4 linked regions of the Homo sapiens genome follow. The protein of the gene in region 1 purifies or fractionates together with the protein of each later gene. This does not show direct contact. Each region holds a gene or a part of one and is shown in the gene's direction. Other genes may lie near its edges. The genes, in order: TNS1, LPXN, EVA1C and SNX21.

Region 1 (5,452 bases):
GACGCTTCCCCTCCTGCCCTAGTCCCTGAACCCCCTGCATCAGCACCCTATATGCCCCCCATCCTCCAGCATAGGAAAAGCGTGTCCCCTCTGGCACAGGGACTGTTGGCTTGGCTGAGCCCCACCTTGGCCTGTTCTTCAGGGGCCCCCGGGCTGGCTCAGAGCAGTGGGATCAGGATGCTCGTCTTTGCAGACCTGCTGTGATCCTGCCCGGCATACCTTCCCAGGACCCGCGTCCCTTTCCTGGAGTCTTGAGTGGTATGGGCTGAGCTTGCTGGTGGAGGGGTAGGGGTCCATCAGGAGTGGGCAGTGCTGGGGAGGAGCTGGGAGGAGCCTCTGGAAATGTGGCAGTGGGCAGCATGAATGACATTGTATCTCTGAATGGTTCTATCACATCCTTTGCATTGAGCTGGAGACAAATCTAGCTGAGGGCAAGCTTGTCTTAGAGAGTCCCAGCTCTGCCTTCAGCCTCCCTGCCACCACCACCTTGGGCATGGTGGGGCCCTTTGCTGCACCCTACTGCCCTCCTGGGTTCTCCCCCTGCTTCCGTGGGCAAAGGCTATCCTCGGGGCGACTGGCCGTCCATGCTGATACCTCTATGGGCATTCAAGGCAATGGCTACTCTCCTGGCATTCTGCCTCTAATCCAGAGTGGGAACTCCAGACATCGAAGCAGGGGTGAGACTTTTTGAGATGGGGTGGCGGAGGGGACTGAGGATGCTTTGGAAATGGTCATTCAGGAATTAATGATACTCATAATGGTGATGGTTAGGGCTCCCAGCTGTTGAACTCCCATCACGTGCCAGGAACTGGTCTCAGCATGTCATGTGTCAACTCATTTAAACTCAAAGCACAGTGTATTTAATGAATATTGGCAATTTCAGATGGTTCAACCAGATTCTATTATTATCCCCATTTTATGGACCAGGAGGCTGGCTCAGAGAGTTATTCATGCCTCTGGTCAGGAAGCTGGTGAAATGCCAGAGCTAGGCTTGGGACTGGAGCGATTTGCCCCCAGCACTTCCTGCTCAGTGTTGGGCTCCACTGCCCGGCCCTGAAGCTGAGTGTTGGTGAGGCTCTGCCCCAAAGCCTGGGGTAGAGGTCTTTCTGTCAGCTCCCCTTTTCCCCACCTCAGGGTGGTGAGAGGAGGTTTTAGGATGCAGGGCATGGGAGCTCTTAGCTTCTTTCTCTGGCAGAGTGGATGATACCCCTGCCTCCCGCTAATGTCTGTTGTCTGTTGTCTCCCCTCCGGCTCTGTCCCTTGCAGAGGTGGTGGGACACACGCAGGGGCCACTAGATGGGAGCCTGTATGCTAAGGTGAAGAAGAAAGACTCCCTGCACGGCAGCACCGGGGCTGTTAATGCCACACGTCCTACACTGTCGGCCACCCCCAACCACGTGGAACACACGCTTTCTGTGAGCAGCGACTCGGGCAACTCCACAGCCTCCACCAAGACCGACAAGACCGACGAGCCTGTCCCCGGGGCCTCCAGTGCCACTGCTGCCTTGAGTCCCCAGGAGAAGCGGGAGCTGGACCGCCTGCTGAGTGGCTTTGGCTTAGAGCGAGAGAAGCAAGGCGCCATGTACCACACCCAGCACCTCAGGTCCCGCCCAGCAGGGGGCTCGGCTGTGCCCTCCTCTGGACGCCACGTTGTCCCAGCCCAGGTTCATGTCAATGGTGGGGCGTTAGCATCTGAGCGGGAGACAGACATCCTGGACGATGAATTGCCAAACCAGGATGGTCACAGTGCGGGCAGCATGGGCACACTCTCTTCTCTGGACGGGGTCACCAACACCAGTGAGGGGGGCTACCCAGAGGCCCTGTCCCCACTGACCAACGGTCTGGACAAGTCCTACCCCATGGAGCCTATGGTCAATGGAGGAGGCTACCCCTACGAGTCTGCCAGCCGGGCGGGGCCTGCCCATGCTGGCCACACGGCCCCCATGCGGCCCTCCTACTCTGCACAGGAGGGTTTAGCTGGCTACCAGAGGGAGGGGCCCCACCCAGCCTGGCCACAGCCAGTGACCACCTCCCACTATGCCCATGACCCCAGCGGTATGTTCCGCTCTCAATCCTTTTCGGAAGCTGAACCCCAGCTGCCCCCAGCTCCGGTCCGAGGGGGAAGCAGCCGGGAGGCTGTGCAAAGGGGACTGAATTCGTGGCAGCAGCAGCAGCAGCAGCAGCAGCAGCCTCGCCCACCTCCACGCCAGCAGGAAAGAGCCCACTTGGAGAGTCTTGTAGCCAGCAGGCCCAGCCCTCAGCCATTGGCAGAGACCCCCATCCCCAGTCTCCCTGAGTTCCCGCGAGCAGCCTCCCAGCAGGAGATTGAACAGTCCATCGAAACACTCAATATGCTGATGCTGGACCTGGAGCCAGCCTCCGCTGCTGCCCCACTACACAAGTCCCAGAGTGTCCCCGGGGCCTGGCCAGGGGCTTCTCCACTCTCCTCCCAGCCCCTCTCTGGATCCTCCCGTCAGTCCCATCCACTGACCCAGTCCAGATCTGGCTATATCCCCAGTGGGCATTCGTTGGGAACCCCTGAGCCAGCCCCACGGGCCTCTCTGGAGTCTGTCCCTCCTGGCAGGTCTTACTCACCTTATGACTATCAGCCATGTTTGGCTGGGCCTAACCAGGATTTCCATTCAAAGAGCCCAGCCTCTTCCTCCTTGCCTGCCTTCCTTCCGACCACCCACAGCCCTCCAGGGCCTCAGCAACCCCCAGCCTCTCTCCCTGGCCTCACTGCTCAGCCTCTGCTCTCACCAAAGGAAGCGACTTCAGACCCCTCCCGGACTCCAGAGGAGGAGCCATTGAATTTAGAAGGGCTGGTGGCCCACAGGGTAGCAGGTAAGAGGTATTCAGTCCTGACTCCTTCTACCCCTTCCTTATTTGGTCTTGCTGGGGGGAGGTGCAGGTCCAGCCATGACCCCTAAGCAGATGTTGCTTTCACTGGTGGGAGGAGGCTCTCAGGAGCCTATATGCTAGCCAGTTATCCCTTCCTGCATTCATTGTCTGATAGGCACCAAGCCAGACACCAAGTTTCAAAGTTCAATGTCAAGCAATTCCTGCCCTCAAGAAATTTACAGTCTAGTGAGCGGACAGATACACAGACAGATGATTTCATTAGAGAGTAATGTGTACGGTGACAGAGGTGGGACCAAGATCCCAGAGCCTGGGAAAGCAAAGCTTACCACCTAGGGCAGTCAGGGAAAGCTTCCAGGAGGTGGTGACTTTGGGGTTGGAGTACAGACTTTCTAGACACAGAGGAGACTCTGCAATTGCCTGTCGTGCTGTCTGTCCTCAGACTTTAGTTCCTTGGGGGAGACGTGGAGAAGGCTGGAGGGAGGCCTTTGTAGACTCAAATTCCCTCTTAGGTCCCGCTCCTAGAGGCCATGAAAGAGTCCGAGAGGGTATCCTCAAGCCCTTAGGCTCTATCTGCTGGGGCGGGGAGGCCAAGGTTCCCCTTCTAAGTCAGTTTTCCTGTTAGTCTTTGCTGAGGACCAGCCCTGTATGGGAAGTAGGTGCTGAGAGACAAAGCTCCTTTTCCTATCAGAGAGTGGGCTTCTCTTTTGGGAGAGAGGAAAGTGGGACACTCAGAAGAGCTTTTGGGGAGACAAAGGCAAGAAATGACAGCATGTCTGGGGCCATGTTGGGAGAGACAGCTGCGAGGTTCCCTTCCCACTGGTCTAAGCCTATGCCCATTCCACAAGGGTGGCTGAACTTGGCAGGAAAACCTGTTGGGTGACTTTATTCTGGAGGTGGAGCCCAGACAGGGGTGGACCAGAGACTGTGGATTTGGGTGGACCTTGTGCCAGCCCCTCAGCTGACAGGGTGGTGGGAGCTCAGCGAGGAGGAGAGGAGCCTGGGCAGCTGTCTCTGTCCTCCACCCCTTTTCCTAAATTTAGGGGAAGCTGAGTCACCATGCCAGCTGCAGGGAGGGAAGGAAACACCCTCCCTGGAGATGGACCGTGGGTTTAGGGAAGCAGCTTGGGGCAGGCCAGCTGGCTCAGGACCTGGTGTGGGGACACAGGCTCCCTGCTCCTATACTTCAGAGCAGAGCAGAGTCCCCAGCTCCACTATTGGTATAATAGCTTGAAATTGGCCATTGCAGGAGTATTTACACCATGGAAATTGGCAATCAGCCTCACCTCCCATAGAGAGCTGGCCTAGCAGTAACAATTCCTTTTACCTGAGCATCGGAACAAAGGATGGGCAGTTCTTAACCTCGGATGAAACGCTCCATGGGTGGTCCATATGGGCTTTGACTTCTGCCTTCTCCCACATCTGGGCCCCTGAGATAAAGATACCCCCCTGGCTTTGTCAGCAGAGATCCTTTTCTTCTTGGTTTTTTTGAGGTGAGAGGGATGGGGCTTTCTGAATTCCCTGGGAATTTAATTCCTCTCCCAATATTTTGCAAGGTTGGAGTGGTGGCCTAAAGATTAGTGACACGCTAGTCTAATGAGGGGCAGGATCCAGGAGCCTTCTCTCTGGGGGAGCAGAATACATTTCCTCCCCTACAAGAACCCTTCCATGCAGCTCTCCTGGAGCTTGCTCAAGAGGAGGCCATAACCCTAATGGCCCTGGGAGGATGCCCATCTTGTAGTGGACTGCCTTTTAGCCCTTTCTCTCCTACCAGCTTTCGAAGGCTTGACTGTCAACTTCCATATTCTGTAGCCTCTCAGGCTTTGGCTGCCATGAAGTCATAGATAGGGAAGGATACTGTTGGCACAATGTTCCCATTCCCTAACCCTGTTGCCATTTCCTCCATCAACTGGGAGTGACTCAAGAGAAGGGATGAAATGTATAGAGGGGACACTTATATTTGGCTCCCAGGTCTATGAAGTTGCCTCTTTGGTTCAAGCCCTGTCATTATGACAGAATTTATGTCAGCAGGTCCTGCATGAGTAACTTCCTTAGTAGCCTTTCAGGGTATCTGCAGTGCCTGTGTAGATAAAGGCAGACAGACAAGATCAATGTGTGGAAAAGTCTGGGAGGCAGGGAAGATAGATTTCAGCACTACTTCTTTCTGCTCTGTCTACATCTCTGCCGTAAGAAGCTGGAACATACACTTTGACATGAGTAACCTAGGAAGCTCAGATCTGTGGGAGAACCTCTTCATGGCCATGAACTTGATCTGGTTTCTCCTGGCTTTCCTCCCCCAGGTCTGCCTTTTCCCCATTGGCTGTCCTCCATACCTCAGTCTCAAGTCCCTGGTTTATTCCACTTTGATCCAATCACCCTTGTGCCTTATTCCAGCTTAAGTTGTAGAGGAGAAGGTAGGGGCAGTTTTCTAATTTGATAAAGGGTAGGGACCAGAAATTTATAGCATACATCACACTTTCCTGTGGAGCATTGGAAGCGTTCCTATTAGAGCCAGGGACAAAATAAGGATGTCTGTTATCACCACTTGCATCTAACATTGTATTGGATGTCCTAGCCAGTGCAATAAGACAAG
Region 2 (5,452 bases), on another chromosome or scaffold:
CTAGCAGCTTGTATACACCCAGAAGGTTTTACCTAAACCCTCATTACGTAGGCATTAGGCATGATAGATAAAGAGGAACCAGGAGCAGATTCTGCCTCCGAATGAAATCCATGCAACCCTCAGAGACTCCCAAGAGACCTCACTTTACTCCTTTCATGTTAATATTGATATTATTTCATCTCCACAGTAAAAGACTACAGAGAAGAATTATGGAGTCTTCAGTCTAGTCCCCACTTCCCCCGCCCCCACTCTCCAGGAATCCCATATTTGTCATACTGAAATTAGTCATCTTCAAATTACAAAATCTGGCAAAAGGCATAATAACCTCACAGTGTTGGTGATATGCACACTCATATGAAACAGGAAGAGAAAAGCCTATAACTCATGACCCAGAAAGAAGGGTTTTGATAACTTTGGTTAGCTGGTGCTTCTGAGGGCAACTTCCTACTCTTTGTGGTATGGTTTCTTCTCTCTTATAATCTTTATTGTAAATGGCTTTTTATTTTGAGCTCAGGAGGATCTTTGGCTTCTAGTTAGAGCAAAGCTTAGAAAATAGAAAAGAAAGGGGCTCTAGCATAATTGAAAGATGTAGAATAAAAATTCAAAATTCTCAAATTTGGTGTGGGGTCTGGCTAATAAAAATCTGAGGCAAAAAGTTTTCTTTCTTTTTCTACCTTAGTTTTCTTTTCTTTTTCTTTCTTTTCTTTTCTTTTTTTTTTTTTTTGAGACGGAGTTTTGCTCTTGTTGCCCAGGCTGGAGTGCAATGGCACGGTCTCGGCTCACCGCAACCTCTGCTTCCCAGGTTCAAGCGTTTCGCCTGCCTCAGCCTTCCTGAGTAGCTGGGATTGCAGACATGTGCCGCCATGCCTGGCTAATTTTGTGTTTTTAGTAGAGACGGGTTTTCTCCATGTTGGTCAGGCTGGTCTCGAACTCCCAACCTCAGGCGATCCGCCCGCCTCGGCCTCTCAAAGTGCTGGGATTTACAGGCATGAGCCACCATGCCCGGCCTATTTGTCCTTCTTTTTAAAAAACTTCTATTATAAAGAAATTTAAGTATGCAAAAGTAGAGAAAATAGTTTAATGAATTCTGATATACCCATCAACCAGTTGAAACAATCAGTTCTTCATCAGTCTTACTTCATATATATGCCCACCCATTCCTTTCACCCCTGTAATTATGTTAAAACAATTTCAGATGTCATTTTATCTGTAACTATTTTAACACTGACCTCTAAAATAAATATATATTTATACATATAACTGTAATGCCATTGCCATAACAACAGCCTTAATATTAATTCCTTAATATTGTAAAATACCATTATCACACCTAAAAACTTAACAGAATTAATTAATATTATTAAATATCATTATCACACCTAAAATAAACAGTACTTACTTGATATTATTTAATATCCAGTCAGTGTTCAATAGTCTTGATTGTTTCATTTTTACAGTAGATTTAATGATCCAAATAAAGTTCATACACTGAAATTTATTATAAGTCTCTCAACTTTTTAATGCCATAGGGTCCCACTCATCTCTTTTTTCCCATTACAGTTATTCATTTGCCCGAGAGTTTAGTTCAGTTTGCTTATCTCTAAAATGGTACATAAAAGTCAACATTTTTGATAAATGGATGATTATGAAAGATCTGTATATTTCATTTGTTAAAAAAAAAAGGATTAGATCTCTTCTAACGCCATTAAGAAATATTCATTCCTCCAAAATCTAAAATAAATGAAAAATCTGTTTTTTTTTTAATGACCTGTGAAGTTTATTTTCCTTATCTGAGAACTTTAGATGTAGGCAGGTCCTTAGAAATAATGTAATTATGTGTTTAAAGTTTGAAAGCTAAAATCTGTGGTAAGAAGTCCGCTAGAGATCCACTAATGCATTATTGAGCCATAATTTGAAAAATACTGTTCTAATCAAATTGCCTTGTTATGTAGATGAGGAAACTGCATCAGAGAAGGATGTGACATGCTCAAGGTAACCCAGAGAATATATATAAGACAGGAGACTGGAACTTCTAACTTTTAGTTAATGCAGGGGCTAGGGATCAGATAGCCCAGATTCAAGTCCTGGTTCTGCATTCATGCGCTTAAGCAAATTATTTTTGTCTCTTTCTTGTGATCTACAAAATAAGGACAATAATATCATCTGCCTCAAAGTGTTAGGATGATTAAATGAAATGTGTAAACTCCTGAGCACAGTGCCTGGCATGTGTTAATTTTTATTAATTATTATTTATTTCATTGTAACAGATAGATACTAGTATATAATACTTTTCCAAAAAAAAAAAAAGAAAAAAAACTGAAAGAGTAACAAATCCCAACTATTTAAATTGCAACATCTTACTTGATTTTGCAATATCTCAGTTTTATCCCCAACCATTTTTTCTCTCCACACCCTAAAAGACAGGATACTTATACCTTGCTTTGAAAATTTTGTTACGTGCTCAGGATAATTGTTAAGATTTAAGAAAAAATATCATTAGGATTAAGAATAAGTGTTATTTCCCTCGTATGTTTTGAAAAATGGTAATATAATTGCTTCTATTTTTCTGATAGAAAAAAGCATTTAGGATTTATTTATTTATTTATTTATTTATTTATTTATTTATTTTTTGAGACAGGGTATCACTCCTTTGGCCCAGGCTGCTGGAGTGTGGTGGCGTGATCTCGACTCATCGCAGGCTCACCTAGGCTCAGGTGATCCTCCCACCTCAGCCTCCCAAGTAGCTGGGACCACAGGTGTGCATCACCATGCTGGGCTGACTTTTTTGTATTTTTCATACAGACTGGATTTTGCTATGTTGCCCTGGTCTGGAACTCCTAGGCTCAAGGGATCCTCCCGCCTCAGCCTTCCAAAGTGCTAAGATTATGGGCATAAGCCACTATACCCAGCCCAGTTTTATTTTTTTCTAATTAAGGATATTTGTGGGGAATCTACCCTAAATGAATGATGAAAATTAATACCTGTGGTATAAAAAATCAAATTATAGCATGAGACTATGAAATTGAATGCAACCATAGAAAATAAGAAACAAACCACAATTTATGGAGGTGTTAAACATTTCTTGGTAGGATTCACCACATTCTTGAAGTGAAATAAGGAATAAGGGAAAGTATTTGAAAATAGCCATAATTGAAGAAAAGGAGATGAATGTGGGCACAGTGAAGATATTTAAGGAGAAAATGACTGTAGGGATTTAAATATTCTCTGTCATGATTCTCTTGCTTCTTATGGTGTAGATGCCTTATTGGAGGAACTGGAACGCTCCACCCTTCAGGACAGTGATGAATATTCCAACCCAGCTCCTCTTCCCCTGGATCAGCATTCCAGAAAGGAGACTAACCTTGATGAGACTTCGGAGATCCTTTCTATTCAGGATAACACAAGTCCCTTGCCGGTAAATTTTCATTTATTATAGTCCTTAAACATGGATGTTTGAGTGCATTTCTGAAAATTAACAGAATCCCACATAAAATAATATGAAAGGAGAATAATATATCCAAGAAAGAGAAAAAATAATGCCTCAATGTTAATCTAAAGATGTTTTTGGAAAGAGGAAGAGAATTGAGAAAATCATCACAGAGGAATGAGTTTTTGAGAACTAAATTTTTTTTATTTTTTTTATTTTTTTTATTTTTTTTTTATTTTTTGAGACAGAGTCACACTCTGTCTCCAAGGCTGGAGTGCAGTGGCACAATCTCGGCTCACTGCAACCTTCACCTCCCAGGTTCAAGCGATTCTCCTGCTTCAGCCTCCCAAATAGCTAGGATTACAGGCACGCACCACCATGCCCAGCTAATTTTTGTATTTTTAGTAGAGACGGGTTTTGTCATGTTGGCCAGGCTGGTCTCAAACTCCTGACCTGAGGTGATTCACCCGCCTTGGCCTCCCAAATTGCTGGGATTACAGGCATGAGCCATCACGCCCAGCCGAGAACTACATTTTTTCTAATGAGCACATGGTCACAGGCAGAGTATTGCATTCACTGGGGATATTCTGATGTTACTGTGGGGGCATCAGAGATGCCTGTTGCAGTTTGACTGGAATGGTACTCAGGCCAGAGATCACCTGAGGAAGGCCAGGTGGCAGCATAGACAAGTCTTCTCAGGGTGACTTTTTAGGGTCACTACTTCCCAGGTCTTATTTTCTGCTGAATAGATTAGGAGATTCAATTATTAGTTTATATAGAGATGATGAAGCTCTAGGGAACCAACTCAAACTAACCAAATTGACAAGTGATTATATATATATTTTAAAAACCTAGGGCAGGTGCAGTGGCTCAGGCCTGTAATTTCAGCACTTTGGAAGGCTGAGGCGGGGGGATCACTTGAAGCCAGGAGTTTGAGACCAGCCTGGGCCATATGGTGAGACCCCCATCTCTACGAAAAATTAAAAAATGAGCAGGGTGTGGTGGTGCGTGCCTATGGTCCCCGCCACTCAGGTGGCTGAAGCAGGAGGATTGCTTAAGCCCAGGTGGTCGAGGCTGCAGTGAGCTATGATTGCGCCACTCCATCCCAGCCTGGGCGACAGAATGAGAGCTTGTCTCAAAAAACAAACAAACAAAAAAAAAACAAAACTCAGAAATCAAATTTACAGTTAAAGCTATCAAGTAAAACAGCTATATTTACTCATATATGCATTCTCTTCCTATGGATAAGTCTATATGGACGTACATTATAATTAAAAGGTTGCTTGATGAGAATGGAATTAGTGTAAGATGAATTAAGTAGATGCTCTTCATAGCTGGTAATTTTGTACTATGATATTTTGATTCATCATTGTTCCCTGTATGAAATAGCCAGAAGCACAGACCTGAAATTTGAGCTCAGGGGTAGTTTACGCCCTAACTGTTCTTTTCTCCAGACACATACACAATTTTAACGATACGAATTTATCTCTCTACTAGGGAACTATTGTCTTTGTTCTCAGTGTTAGATTATAGCTGTAGGCTCCTAAGTGGTCTCCTGCCCTTTGCCCCACTGCAGTCTGTTCTCAAGCAGCCAGGGTCACCTTTAAAAACTAAAGTCAGACCCTGTCATTCTTCTACTCAAAACCCCAAAATGACTCCCATCTCATTTGGAGTAAAAGCCATAGTTTCATGTTGATCTTTCTGGGGTGACCATATATCCTGGTTTACCTGAAAGAGTCCTGGGTTTATGCTTGTTTTTCTCACATCCTATTAACTTTACTTTTTACCCCAGATCTTCAATTTTATTTAAAGTTTTCTTATCAGTATTTGCATTAAGTAAGCCACTATGGCTTAACAGACCTCCTTCCAGCTTCTTCCATGGTCTCATCTAGCAGCGTATGAAACACATATTCAGTGAACAGTGCTCTTTTTTTTTTTTTTGAGATGGAGTCTCTTTCTGTCGTGCAGGCTGGAGTGCAGTGGTGCAATCTTGGCTCACTGCCACCTCTGCCTCCCAGGTTCAAG
Region 3 (5,452 bases), on another chromosome or scaffold:
CTTTCTTTCTTTCTTTCTTTCTTTCTTTCTTTCTTTCTTTCTTTCTTTCTTTCTTTCTTTCTTCTTTCTTTCTTTCTTCTGTCTTTCTTTCTCTCTTTCTTTCTTTCCTTACTTTTTCTTCTTTTTCTTTGGAGTTTCGCTCTTGTCGCCCAGGCTGGAGTGCAATGGCGCAATCTCCACTCACTGCAACCTCTGCCTCCGGGTTCAAGCGATTCTCCTGCCTCAGCCTCCCAAGTAGCAGGGATTACAGGCGTCCACCACCACACCTGGCTAATTTTTGTGTTTTTAGTAGAGACGGGGTTTCACCATGTTAGTCAGGCTGGTCTTGAACTCCTGACCTCAGGTGTTCTCCTCGTCTCGGCCTCCCAAAGTGCTGGGATTACAGGTGTGAACCACCGCACCCGGCCCCTCCTTAGTTTTCACTTGGCTTTTGTAAATGGGGTGGAGGGGTAGGGAGTTGAGGGGGTTGAGCATTTGGATTTTCTTATCAAATCTAGAATGGAATTCAAACCCATGGGGTCCCTAATAGAAACTGCAGAGACCCCGTAGAGCATCTAAGATGTTAGGCTGTGGTGAGAGTTTTGTCTTGTGTTACCTTTATTATATGTATTAGGTCTTTCCCCCCTAAGTATAAAAGTAAAGTATGTTTGATATGAAAACCATATGAAAGCACCCCTACTCCAAAAGCTCAAAGAAAACTATTGGTAATGTTCTTCTGTGTCCTTCTAGCTGGCCACCTTGGCTTTCTGGCAGGCTCTGTGTTCCTTAGCTCCTCTTCTCTTTCTTTTAACTAATTAATTAACTATTATTATTATGTTTGTAAAGACAGGGCTTTGCCATGTTGCCCTGGCTGGTCTCAAACTCCTGGGCTCAAGCGATCCACCCACCTCATCCTCCCAAGGTGCTGGGATTACAGGCGTAAGACACCGCACCCAGCTTCCACTTATTTTTCTAACAGGGTTCCCACCCGATCCATAAACAGCCTGGTCCCCCTGCAGTGGGGGCCTGAGAGCCAACCCTGTGCCGTCTCTCCTCAAAGGCATCTGTCCTGTCTGACATGGCTAGGAGTCCCCCAAGCCATCAGGTTACCCCATCACAGACTTGCTAAGCTCCATCCAGCAGTGTAACCAGGATTTAAAAGCAGATTTGCCCCACATTTTGCTGTTGTTTCCAAAAAAAGTAGCCCAATACAACCTCCCTCTGTAATGGAGGCTTGTTTTATCTCTGGCCACACAGCAGACATCAAATCCATGCTTAAAGTGAAATATTATTGGCCGGGAGCAGTGGCTCACGCCTGTTATCCCAACACTTTGGGAGGCCGAGGCGGGCAGATCACCTGAGGTAAGGAGTTCGAGACCAACCTGGCCAACATGGTGAAGCCCCATCTCTAATAAAAATACAAAAATTTGCTGGGCATGGTGGCACGTGCCTGTAATCCCAGCTACTCAGGAGGCTGAGGCAGGAGAATTGCTTGAAACCAGGAGGTAGATGGTTGCAGTGAGCCAAGATTGTGCCATTGCACTCCAGCCTGGGCAACAAGAGTGAAACTCCATCTCAAAAATAAATAAATAAATAAAATAAAGCGAGATATTATTAAGCCTCTGAGGGGTGTGATGAATGTCACTGTCTTTAGGATGGGAAAATCCACTTATTCCCTTCCACAGTGGAGTGGAAGACCAGCACCTGAAGTTGGAACCAACACTTAAAACAATTTCTAATCCTTTTTGTACTTTAATATTGTCGGGGACTGCTTACTATTTAATAAGTGCTCTTCCTGGGTTAATCTTCTGTAATTTAGCCAGAGGCCCATTTGTTTGATTTCTGTGACTTTTAATTATTCCGGCGGTCCCTGGGGTAGGAGCAGCAGGGGTGTCTTAGAATAGGCGTACTATGAACAGCTGTGATTAATTGGTCTTGCATTTTTCATGAAACAGGTATAAACTTCGACCCAAGCGGATCGAAGGTTCTGAGGAAAGATGGAATTCTTGTTAGCAACTCTCTGGCAGCCTTTGCTTACATTAGAGGTAGGTCAATGAATCAAAGCTTCCTAGAATGCTGATGGATTTACTAAAGTCTTGTTAATAAATGTGCTGTTCAATTATAGCACTCAGATAACTAAAGGACGATGACTTCAAGTTTAACATGCCAACCACCACTTCTAAGATTCAGAAACACAGAGGCCTGAGTTCAGGCACAGTTGTAACCAGGCAGTCAGCAAGAGAACCACATAAACAGACAAAGTCACACTATTTAGGAGTTGAGCTCCACAGATATTTTTCGCTTTTGAAAAGTAGAAACCCGAGGAATGCATTTCCCAGCTCTAAAATTCGGGAAGGAACTAGGATTATTGAATTCCAGCCCTGACTGGAAGAAAAATGAGCCAGAAGGTCACTTAGTAAACAAGACAGATCATGCCCCATGAAGACAGAGCCACTTTCTGGGTCATGAGTGTTATTCCTAATAGTTGTCAAGGATTCCCTTGTTAGTCTTCCCCATGAGGATCAATCAGACTCAGCCCTCATGAATTAGCAGAGCCAGAAGGCTTATACCAAGGCCGGCCACACCGCGGGGACCTCTTCATTGAGGGGAAGGTATGTACAATTTTTCCTCACCACCCTCTCTGCTTATCTTAAGATAGAACACATTTTGGAATGCCATCTGCAAGTTTCAGCAATGCCTGCCTATGTTCAGAGAGACAAAAACCAGAGACCTTCAGTAAAATACATGTTAATATAATACATAACAGTATTGCTATTCAAGGCCTGCAAAGATGGGCTATTTGGGGTAAGCCTGTCTCAGAGGAAAATAGAGGCTTAGGGAATGTATTTGTCTGTTCTCATGCTATTAATAAAGACATACCTGAGGCTGGGTAATTTATAAAGGAAAGAGGTTTAATGGACTCACAGTTCCACATGGTTAGGGAGGCCTAACAATCTCGGTGGAAGGTGAATGAGGAGCAAAGTCACGTCTTACTTGGTAGCAGGCAAGAGAGCTTGTGCAGGGGAACTCCCCTTTATAAAACCATCAGATCTCGTGAGACTTATTCACTATCACCAGAACAGCATGGGAAAGACCCACCCCATGATTCAATTACCTCCCACCATGTCCCTCCCATGACACATGTGGATTATGGGGGCTATAATTCAAGATGAGATTTGGGTGGGGACACAGCCAAACCATATTGGGGAATGATCTCAATACATGAGATGCAAAGTTCAGTCTTGGGGTCCCCTGCTGTTCTATTGTCCTCCTGCGTCAGGATTCCTCCTGTGTGTGTGTTGTGTGGTTGATGGTTTCTTCTGTGGGTCCTCTCTTTTCTAGCCACCTTCTCATTTTCATGTCTTGCTGTTCCTGATCATTGTCAATGTTAAGAACTGTAAGGATTTTTACTGTCAGAAATATCCCCATATTTACAAAGTCCTTGGGGAGCTTCTTGGAGAAAAGCCATCATGAAAATCCTCCAGACAGAGAATAACGATTGAAGGGGAACGAGACCGACATTGCGCTCAGTGAGCTGTGGCCTTGCTGTGTGCTTTACCCCAACTACCTTGTCCGTTCCTCTCAACAACTGCCTTAGCCAGCCCAGCTGCCATAACAAAGTACCCGAGACCAGATGGCCTAAATAACAGACATTGATTTTCTCACCGTTCTGGAGGCCAGAATTTCATGATCAAAGTATCCACCAATCACTTTCCGGTAAGGGCTCTCTTCCTGGGTTGTGGACAGCAGCCTTCTTGCTTGTCCTCACATGGCAGAGAGGGGGAGAGACAGAGACAGAGACATCTCTTCTTTTTATAAAACCACCAATTCTATCAGATTAGGATTCCCCCCTTATGGCCTCCTTTAACCTTAATTAGCTCCTAATGAGTGAACTGGGGGCAACACAATTCAGTCCATAGCAACAACCCTGAGAGATGGGACTCTGATCCCCTGTTCTGCACTTGAAGCCGGTGGTCAGAGGAGTTGAGCCATTTGCCTGAGGACACCATGGACAGCGGCAGGGCCAGGATTCAGGCTCAGCTAATACAAGGCTTGCACTCCAGCTACTCTGAATTTTGAGGGATGCAACCACCTCCCCACTCTGATCCTGAGTTGTCTAAATTAGCTTTCCTCCATCTCTTTCTATCCTTTTATGTGATTGTCATTCCCAGAAACCACAGGATAGAGATATTCGTTTAGTGACTATCTCTCCTGCTAGTGGCTCAGCTCCACAGGGTCAGGTGCCTTGTCATCTTATTTTGTGTGGTATCCCTGTATCTAGGATGCGGTGCTGGTACAGAACAGGTGCACAGTCAGTAGTTAAGGAACAACTGAATGATGACTGCTGATATGGGCTTATGAGCTTTTTCCTGTGCTTTATTGTCATCCAATATTTGCTATTTATAAGATGTCCATTTTTTTAAAATGTAAGGACTTGATGAGCTGTTATTTGATTTTATTGAGGGGTGTTTGGTGACATTTATCTTAGCAAACCATGACCACGCCTCCATATAATGTCCAAGAGAAAGAGTCTCTAAATGCACTGTGTTGGATGTTAGCTAAATGAAATCACCACAAGAAGCTCGTGACTCAAATCACAGAGGCTCACAAAGCCCTAGTAGAACAGGTGCCTCTGGGCTTGCCTGTGGGTTTTCTTGGTGTGTCTATGTCGCTGTCTGGGTGGCCACTCTAGAGGTGGGAAGCATGCAGTGCATGCTCAGGGGTCTGCAGGCCAGTGTGCCACAGAGGTGCATGTGGACATCAGGCTGGGTCATTTCGACCCAAACAGGCAGTGGCCACCAGCCAATGTCACACAGTGCTGAGCTCCATCCTCACTGCTGCTGGAGAGAGGTGCCCAGACAACTCTCAGTCGCATCCCCGGCCCCACTGTGGGGATGTGACCCACGGGATGAGCTGGGGTCTCTAGGCACCCCCAAAGCAGGAGCAGCTGGGAGCCAAGAGTGTGAGCAGGGCAGTTTCCAGCCCAAACCACCCAAATAGGCGGCAAATGGAGTGAATCCAAAAGTACATTTCCCAGGTCAGGCTGCAAGTAGCTTTGACACAGTAGTGCAGTCCAGTGTACATGGGGACAAGGAGAAGAGAAACCAAAATCGAGAGGTTTGTCCCCTGATATTAAAGCACAGAGGTTGGCAGAAGGGACAGGAGGATGTCCAAGGGTCCCTGGTGAAGCATCTCCTGGGGTCATCTGAATGATCTGTGAGATGGTTTCCCCAACATTGAAAAAGCTTCTTAGGTATGTTTGAATTTACTGTCATTTCAATAATACAGACTTACTCCCCGAATTCATTCTAGAATCAAGATCATGACTCTAAGGAAGCTCATAGAAAAACATTGGAAATTAGAGAAATGGAAAAGGAGTGGTGTGTGTGTGTGCATGTGTGTGTGCATGTGTGCATGTGCGTCTGTGAGCATGTGCATGTGTGTGTATGTGTGCACGTGTGTGTGCATAGGT
Region 4 (6,183 bases), on another chromosome or scaffold:
ACCCCTGCACTCCAGCCTCACAACAGAGTGAGACTCTGTCTCTGAAAGAAGAGGCCGGGCACGGTGGCTCATGTCTCTAATCCCAGCACTTTGGGAGGCTGAGGCAGGTGGATCATTTGAGGTCAGCAGTTCGAGACCAGCCTGGCCAACATGGTGAAACCCCATCTCTACTAAAAATACAAAAATTAGCCGGGTGTGGTGGCACATGCCTGTAATTCCAGCTACTTGGGATTACTTGTAATTCCAGCTACTTGGGATTACTTGAGGCAGGAAAATCGCTTGAACCCAGGAGATGGAGGTTGTAGTGAGCCAAGAGTGTGCCATTGGACTCCAGCCTGGGTGATGGAGTAAGACTCTGTCTCAAAAAAAATAAAATAAATAAAAATAAATAAAAAAGGAAGAAGAAGCAGGAGGAGGAAGAAGGAAGCAAAAAGAAGAAGAAATAATAATAGTGGAGAATGCGCAACCTTCAGATCTCCTAGTTCTGACTGTTTATATGACCCAGCATAAGCCCTTCCCCTCACTAAGCCTCAGACTACCTATCTGTAAAATGGAGGTGATAGGCCAGATTTCTGAGGGGCCCTCCTGCTCTAACAACCCATGGTTTCATGAAGACCAGCTTTGTGCCCAGACATGTAAGGCATATACCGAAGGACAAGTTATTTTTTAACCAATGGTTGGTGAATGAGTGAGTGTTGAATTAATGAATGAAGTATGCCTTTTTTGTCCCAATATCTTGCCCATAAGCCAAATGAAGAGTAATTCGAGGTTTGAAATTGTGCAAACTGGCCAGGCACAGTGGCTCACGCCTGTAATCCCAGCACTTTGGGAGGTAGAGGCAGGTGGATCACTTGAGGCCAGGTGTTCCAGATCAGCCTGGCCAATATGGTGAAACCCCACCTCTACTAAAAATACAAAAATTAGCCGCATGGTGGCACATGCCTGTAGTCCCAGCCACTCAGGAGGCTGAGGCAGGAGAATTGCTTGAACCTGGGAGGCAGAGGTTACAGTGAGCCAAGATTGCATCACTGTACTCCAGCCTGGGCGACAGAGCAAGACTCTGTCTCCCTCTCTAAAAATAAATAAATAAATAAATAAAATTGCACAAACTTAGGCTTAAAATCCCAGCCCCTCTATTTCCCAGATGTGGATCTTGGGGAAGTCACTTTGCCTCAGTTTCTTCATCTTGAAAATGGACCATTAATGTCCAGTTACAGCCTCTTCCCCAGGACGCTGTGAGGGAGAGATGTGACAGTAAAGTGCCTAGAGCAGGATGTAGAAAGTGGACCCTCAGAAAATAAGAACCCCAGCCTTTCTGCTCACATGGGAGGGCAGGGAGCTGAAATACCTTCTGCTTATCCCAAGGCATTTTCCCCCACCCTTCTCTCCTGTGCCACTCAGAAAGGGTAGGAGCTACTTTGGAGAGATTTTGATTTTATTTATTGTATTGTATAACTATCAAAATCTGCCCTAACAACTGATACCTAGGCTTTGTGACAGGAAGCCACAATAACTTTTTCTTGACCTGCAGCTGCCCTGCGGATAAAAGATAAAACAAAGCTGGGGAGCCACTGAGATTATCAGGCCTGCTGCACAGGAAAAGGGCAGTATGCAGCAGGGGACCTGGGCTCCAGGCCCCATACTCAGAAACCTCTGAGGGAGGCAGAGGCAGGTGGATCACTTGAGCCCAGGAATTCGAGACCAGCCTGGGCAACATGGCCAAATCCCATCTCTACAAAAAATACAAAAATTAGCTGGGTGTGGTGGCGAACGCCTCTATTCCTAGCTACTGGGGAGGCTGAGGTGGGAGGGATGACCTGAGCCCAGGGAGGCGGAGGTTGCAGTAAGCAGAGATGGTGCCACTGCACTCCAGCCTAGGTGACAGAGTGAGACTCCATCTCAAAAGAGAAAGAAAGAAAGAAAGAGAGAGAGAGAAAGAAAGAAAGAGAGAGAGAGAAAGAAAGAAAGAAACCTCTGGCAAGCTGTGTGGTTAAGCCAAGTAACTCACCCTCTCTGGTCCTCAGTTTCCCTGTTTGCCTACTTCCCATGTGTGAGGTTCAAATCAGATTGTGCAAGCCTGTGAACACTGTAGAAACAATAATCATTATGTAAGTGATCATTTCGTCAGCCTTTGCTCTATGCCAGGCACGGGACGAGCGTTCTTACAAGAGCTGCAAAATTAGTTTTAGCAGTATTGTTCCTGTTTTACATATGAGAAAACCTAGGCTCAGCGAGGTCAGATTCCAACCAACCCAAATCACGCATCTTCTCCTGGCCCTTCGTTTTCTCTCGGGAGACATGGCCTCCCTACTATTGCATAATTACTTTGTGAAGTTAAAGAGCGTTGGGTGGAAATGAGTGGGACAGATTGGAGATGACGTGGGTGGGGTGGGAGGATTCAAGGAGGGTACGCGCCTGGCCGGACTGGGATGACTCTGCGGCAGGCCTGGGACTCCCTCAGGCCGACCCAGGCTTCCCAAGTCCCTCCTGGAGCCAAGGGCCCGGGATTCTCGGGCGGCTCGGGCGAGCGGGCGGGGCAGGAGGCGGGGCGGCGGCAGGAAGCTGCCCGAGCGGCGCTCTGAGCGGCCTGAGCCCGGCGGAGCCCTGCAGAACCCGGCCGACCTCCATGGGCTGCGGGGGGCTGCACCCGGACCCCTGGGGCGCGGCGCGCCCCTGAATGCACCGTGGGACGCAGGAGGTAGAGGCGCACGAGGCGGCGCAAGAGACATCGGGAGGGTCCTGAGCCCCTCCGGGGAGGAACGCGGTCCTAGGCTGAGTGGGTTGGGGGGAAAGCGATGCTGGCTGGGTCCCCTGGTTCGCAAGACCTCGGACTGCCAGGGGGTGGGGCCTCACCGCGCCCCTCCCTCTCCGGTTCGGGCCCCGCCCCTCCTCCTCCTGCGCCGGGCTGGGGTACCCCTCCTCCGGGATCCGGTACACAGCGTCGCGCGCTCCCCCCAGGGTGCCATGGCCTCCCGGCTCCTGCACCGGCTGCGGCACGCCTTGGCCGGCGACGGCCCCGGGGAGGCGGCGGCCAGTCCAGAGGCCGAGCAGTTTCCGGAGAGCTCAGAGCTGGAGGACGACGACGCCGAGGGCCTGTCCTCCCGACTCAGCGGCACCCTCAGCTTCACCAGCGCCGAGGACGACGAGGACGACGAGGACGAGGACGACGAGGAGGCTGGCCCTGACCAGCTGCCCCTCGGGGATGGGACGTCAGGAGAAGACGCAGGCGAGTGCAGGAGGACGGAGGCGGGAACCCTGGGGCTCGATTAGGCCTCCATCCCAGCCGCGTTCCCAGAGCATCCAGGGCGCTAAGTTGATCCAGCTGAAACTCCCACACTTCTTAAAGCGCCTGGGCCACCTCTTGGCTGTGTGACCTTGAGAGAGTCTTAACCCCCCTCTGAGCCAAGTTTTCCCTTGTGTCAAGTGGGAGAACTCACTCTCATCTCAGAATTGCTGCAGGCATTAAATGTACAGGGCTTGGGATCCGAATGGAAATGATGTATTAACGATATTTTGAGGGTGGAGCTATTAATTTAGCCCCTACTGTCTGCCAGGCACGGTGTTTGGCTCCTCGGTGCCTCTCTGTCCCTCAGTTTCCATTTCTGTAAAAAGGGGGTAAGTCCTGCCTCACACTGGGAGGATGAGTGAGGCCACGTCAGTGGTTGATGTCGACCCTGGCCCTAGGCCCATTGATATGACTGGTCATGTGTCTGCAGAACGGAGCCCCCCACCTGATGGGCAGTGGGGCAGTCAGCTCCTGGCGCGGCAGCTGCAGGATTTCTGGAAGAAGTCCCGGAACACCTTGGCACCCCAGCGGCTGCTCTTCGAAGTGACCAGCGCTAACGTTGTCAAGGACCCGCCCTCCAAGTACGTGGTGAGTGAGGGTCTAGAACCCCTGGGCTGTGAGTCCAGAAGTATGGCTAGGAGCAAGTAGGGAAGACCCCAACTTCCTGAGGGGTCTATGTAGTTATAAATGGTTACCTTGTTTACAAATGGGGAAACTGAGGTCAGAAAGGGGATGTAACTTGAGCAAATCCTCACACAAGACTTAGTTTCCTTGAGACTGACTGAAGTGGGGATTAAGGACCTTCCTCTTAACCTGGTTTTGAGACTAAGAGAACTGGTGTGTGCACTTCCCCACCCAGCCCACAAGGTTTTTGCAAATTGTAGCAAGATGTGAGATACAGAGAGACAGATGTTATCTGGGTCAAACTTGAGATCCAAGTTGCATGGGCTGGTAGTTAAGGAAATAGGCTTTCGATCCAGACCAATCTTGACTCCCACTTATTTCCAGTTGTTTGACTCTGGGTGAGTTGTTTAACCTTGGTCATCTTCCGTTTCCTCATTATAGCAATGGGGAAAATGCAGAAGATTACAGCAGGAGTTAAATGAGACAATGGACAAAAAGCCCTTAGCAGTGTGCCTGGCATTATGACGTGGTCAATGAAATGGTAGCTATGTCATCATTATTTAACTTTGGGTTGAAAATGTTTGTCATCTAGGGCCTGCTGTGTCCTTATAACGCACAGGTCAATCAGTTCTCAAGCACCCGACCTTGTCCCTAAGGGCTAGACTTAGAGGGTTGGTGGAGGTTAGGATGAAGAGCAATGTTGGGGAGGACCTTGGAGTCCCTTGCTGTTTTCCTTGCTGTTGAGAGACTGACTTGGAGAATGAGGTCTGCTCCTTTAATGCCCACAGCGACTCCTGCTCCAGTCCCTTTTCAGGCCAGGCCTGAAAGCCAGCTGAGCTGGCCACTCCTGTCAGTGGCAGCTCTCCATCTCTCACTCCCCTCCTCTTCACCACCCTTCTCCACCTCTGACTCAGCAGGAGGGGGCCTGGAGCCCAGTCCCACATCTGGGCCTCTCCACCCTTTTCTGTTGCTGTTAGTAAGCAAGGGCCACACCCATGGGGTGACTACTCCAATTTCAGCAGGGACCGACTCCGATTATTGAGTCTTTTAAAAAAATTTTTGAGGCCGGGCGTGGTGGCTCACGCCTGTAATCCCAGCACTTTGGGAAGCCGAGGCGGGCGGATCACGAGGTCACGAGACCATCCTGGATAACACGGTGAAACCCCGTCTCTACTAAAAATACAAAAAAATAGCCGGGCATGGTGGCAGGCGCCTGTAGTCCCAGTTACTTGGGAGGCTGAGGCAGGAGAATGGCGTGAACCCAGGAGGCAGAGTTTGCAGTGAGCCGAGATCGAGCCACTGCAGTCCGGCCTGGGCAACAGAGCGAGACTCCGTCTCAAAAAAAAAAAAAAAAAAAAAAAAAAATTTTGAGACAGGGTCTCGTTCTGTCACTCAGGCTGGAGTGCAGTGGTGCAGTCATAACTCACTACAACCTCCAACTGGGCTCAAGCTATCCTCCCACCTCAGCCTCCCAAGTAGCTAGGACTACAGCTGTGCACCACCACGTGTGGCCAATGATGAAGTCTGAAGTGGCAAAGGTCTCAGAACTCTGGGTTCATACACTGGAAGGGGACACCAAGGAATAGTTCAGAGGCTGAGAGGAATGGGGGTGACTGTGGGTACCTGGATGGGAAGGGATGACAAGATAGAGCAGGATGGCCAAGTATGCCCCGGCCTGTGTCTGGAGAAGCAAGGCACCTCCTGTGTACAATGGGGACCCTAATTCCCCACTCAACTTGTGGGGGTGAAGAGCACAGGCTTTGGAATCAGATCAACCTGAGTTTAAATCCCAGCTGGGCTGTTTTCCAGCTGTGTGACTTACGGCAAGTCTTTGAGCCCTTTTCCCCCTCTTTGAGCCTGCTTCCTCAGCTGTCAGAGATAAGGACCTTCCTTGCAGTGCTGTTGTGATGATTAAATGAAATCACAGATGTAAAGAGTGCTTGGTACAACAGGAGGCACAGGGTAAATGCTTGGGTAATGGAACTACTGTCATTATCACCCATCTGGCTGCATGTTACAAGGTCAATGAGATAATGGATACAAAATGTAAACTAGATGAACATAAAGGCTTATTATATAGACCAGTGTGTCCTGAAGAAAACTGGTGTCCTAAAGTGTGTCCTGCAGAAAACTAGTTCCCTGGAATGTTAATAGCTGTTTCTAAATAAAGGTTTTGCAGGCAATATGTTTTGAGAATGCAGAGTTAAATGAGAATACAATAAGTTTCTTTATTGTTAAAGTATTTAATCCCTAATAGTGATATACACTGTGAA

The links.
Region 2: the proteins of TNS1 (region 1) and LPXN purify together in Homo sapiens (co-immunoprecipitation; one large-scale study listed by IntAct). This does not show direct contact.
Region 3: the proteins of TNS1 (region 1) and EVA1C purify together in Homo sapiens (co-immunoprecipitation; one large-scale study listed by IntAct). This does not show direct contact.
Region 4: the proteins of TNS1 (region 1) and SNX21 purify together in Homo sapiens (co-immunoprecipitation; one large-scale study listed by IntAct). This does not show direct contact.

The regions. Positions count from the first base shown.
Region 1 is NC_000002.12:217,844,902-217,850,353, reverse strand, and holds part of TNS1 (tensin-1), read left to right. Parts: intron 1-165; exon of another isoform or gene 166-493; coding exon of another isoform or gene 494-677; intron 678-1,266; coding exon 1,267-2,844; intron 2,845-5,452.
Region 2 is NC_000011.10:58,568,519-58,573,970, reverse strand, and holds part of LPXN (leupaxin), read left to right. Parts: intron 1-3,257; coding exon 3,258-3,415; intron 3,416-5,452. UniProt on the Homo sapiens protein: Transcriptional coactivator for androgen receptor (AR) and serum response factor (SRF). Contributes to the regulation of cell adhesion, spreading and cell migration and acts as a negative regulator in integrin-mediated cell adhesion events.
Region 3 is NC_000021.9:32,501,992-32,507,443, forward strand, and holds part of EVA1C (protein eva-1 homolog C isoform 1 precursor), read left to right. Parts: intron 1-1,934; coding exon 1,935-2,024; exon of another isoform or gene 2,025-2,112; intron 2,113-5,452. UniProt on the Homo sapiens protein: Binds heparin.
Region 4 is NC_000020.11:45,831,243-45,837,425, forward strand, and holds the start of SNX21 (sorting nexin-21), read left to right. Parts: upstream 1-2,556; 5' UTR 2,557-2,677; coding exon 2,678-2,698; intron 2,699-2,958; coding exon 2,959-3,226; intron 3,227-3,716; coding exon 3,717-3,874; intron 3,875-3,935; exon of another isoform or gene 3,936-4,351; coding exon of another isoform or gene 4,352-4,435; exon of another isoform or gene 4,436-4,448; coding exon of another isoform or gene 4,449-4,451; exon of another isoform or gene 4,452-6,093; intron 6,094-6,183. UniProt on the Homo sapiens protein: Binds to membranes enriched in phosphatidylinositol 3-phosphate (PtdIns(P3)) and phosphatidylinositol 4,5-bisphosphate. May be involved in several stages of intracellular trafficking.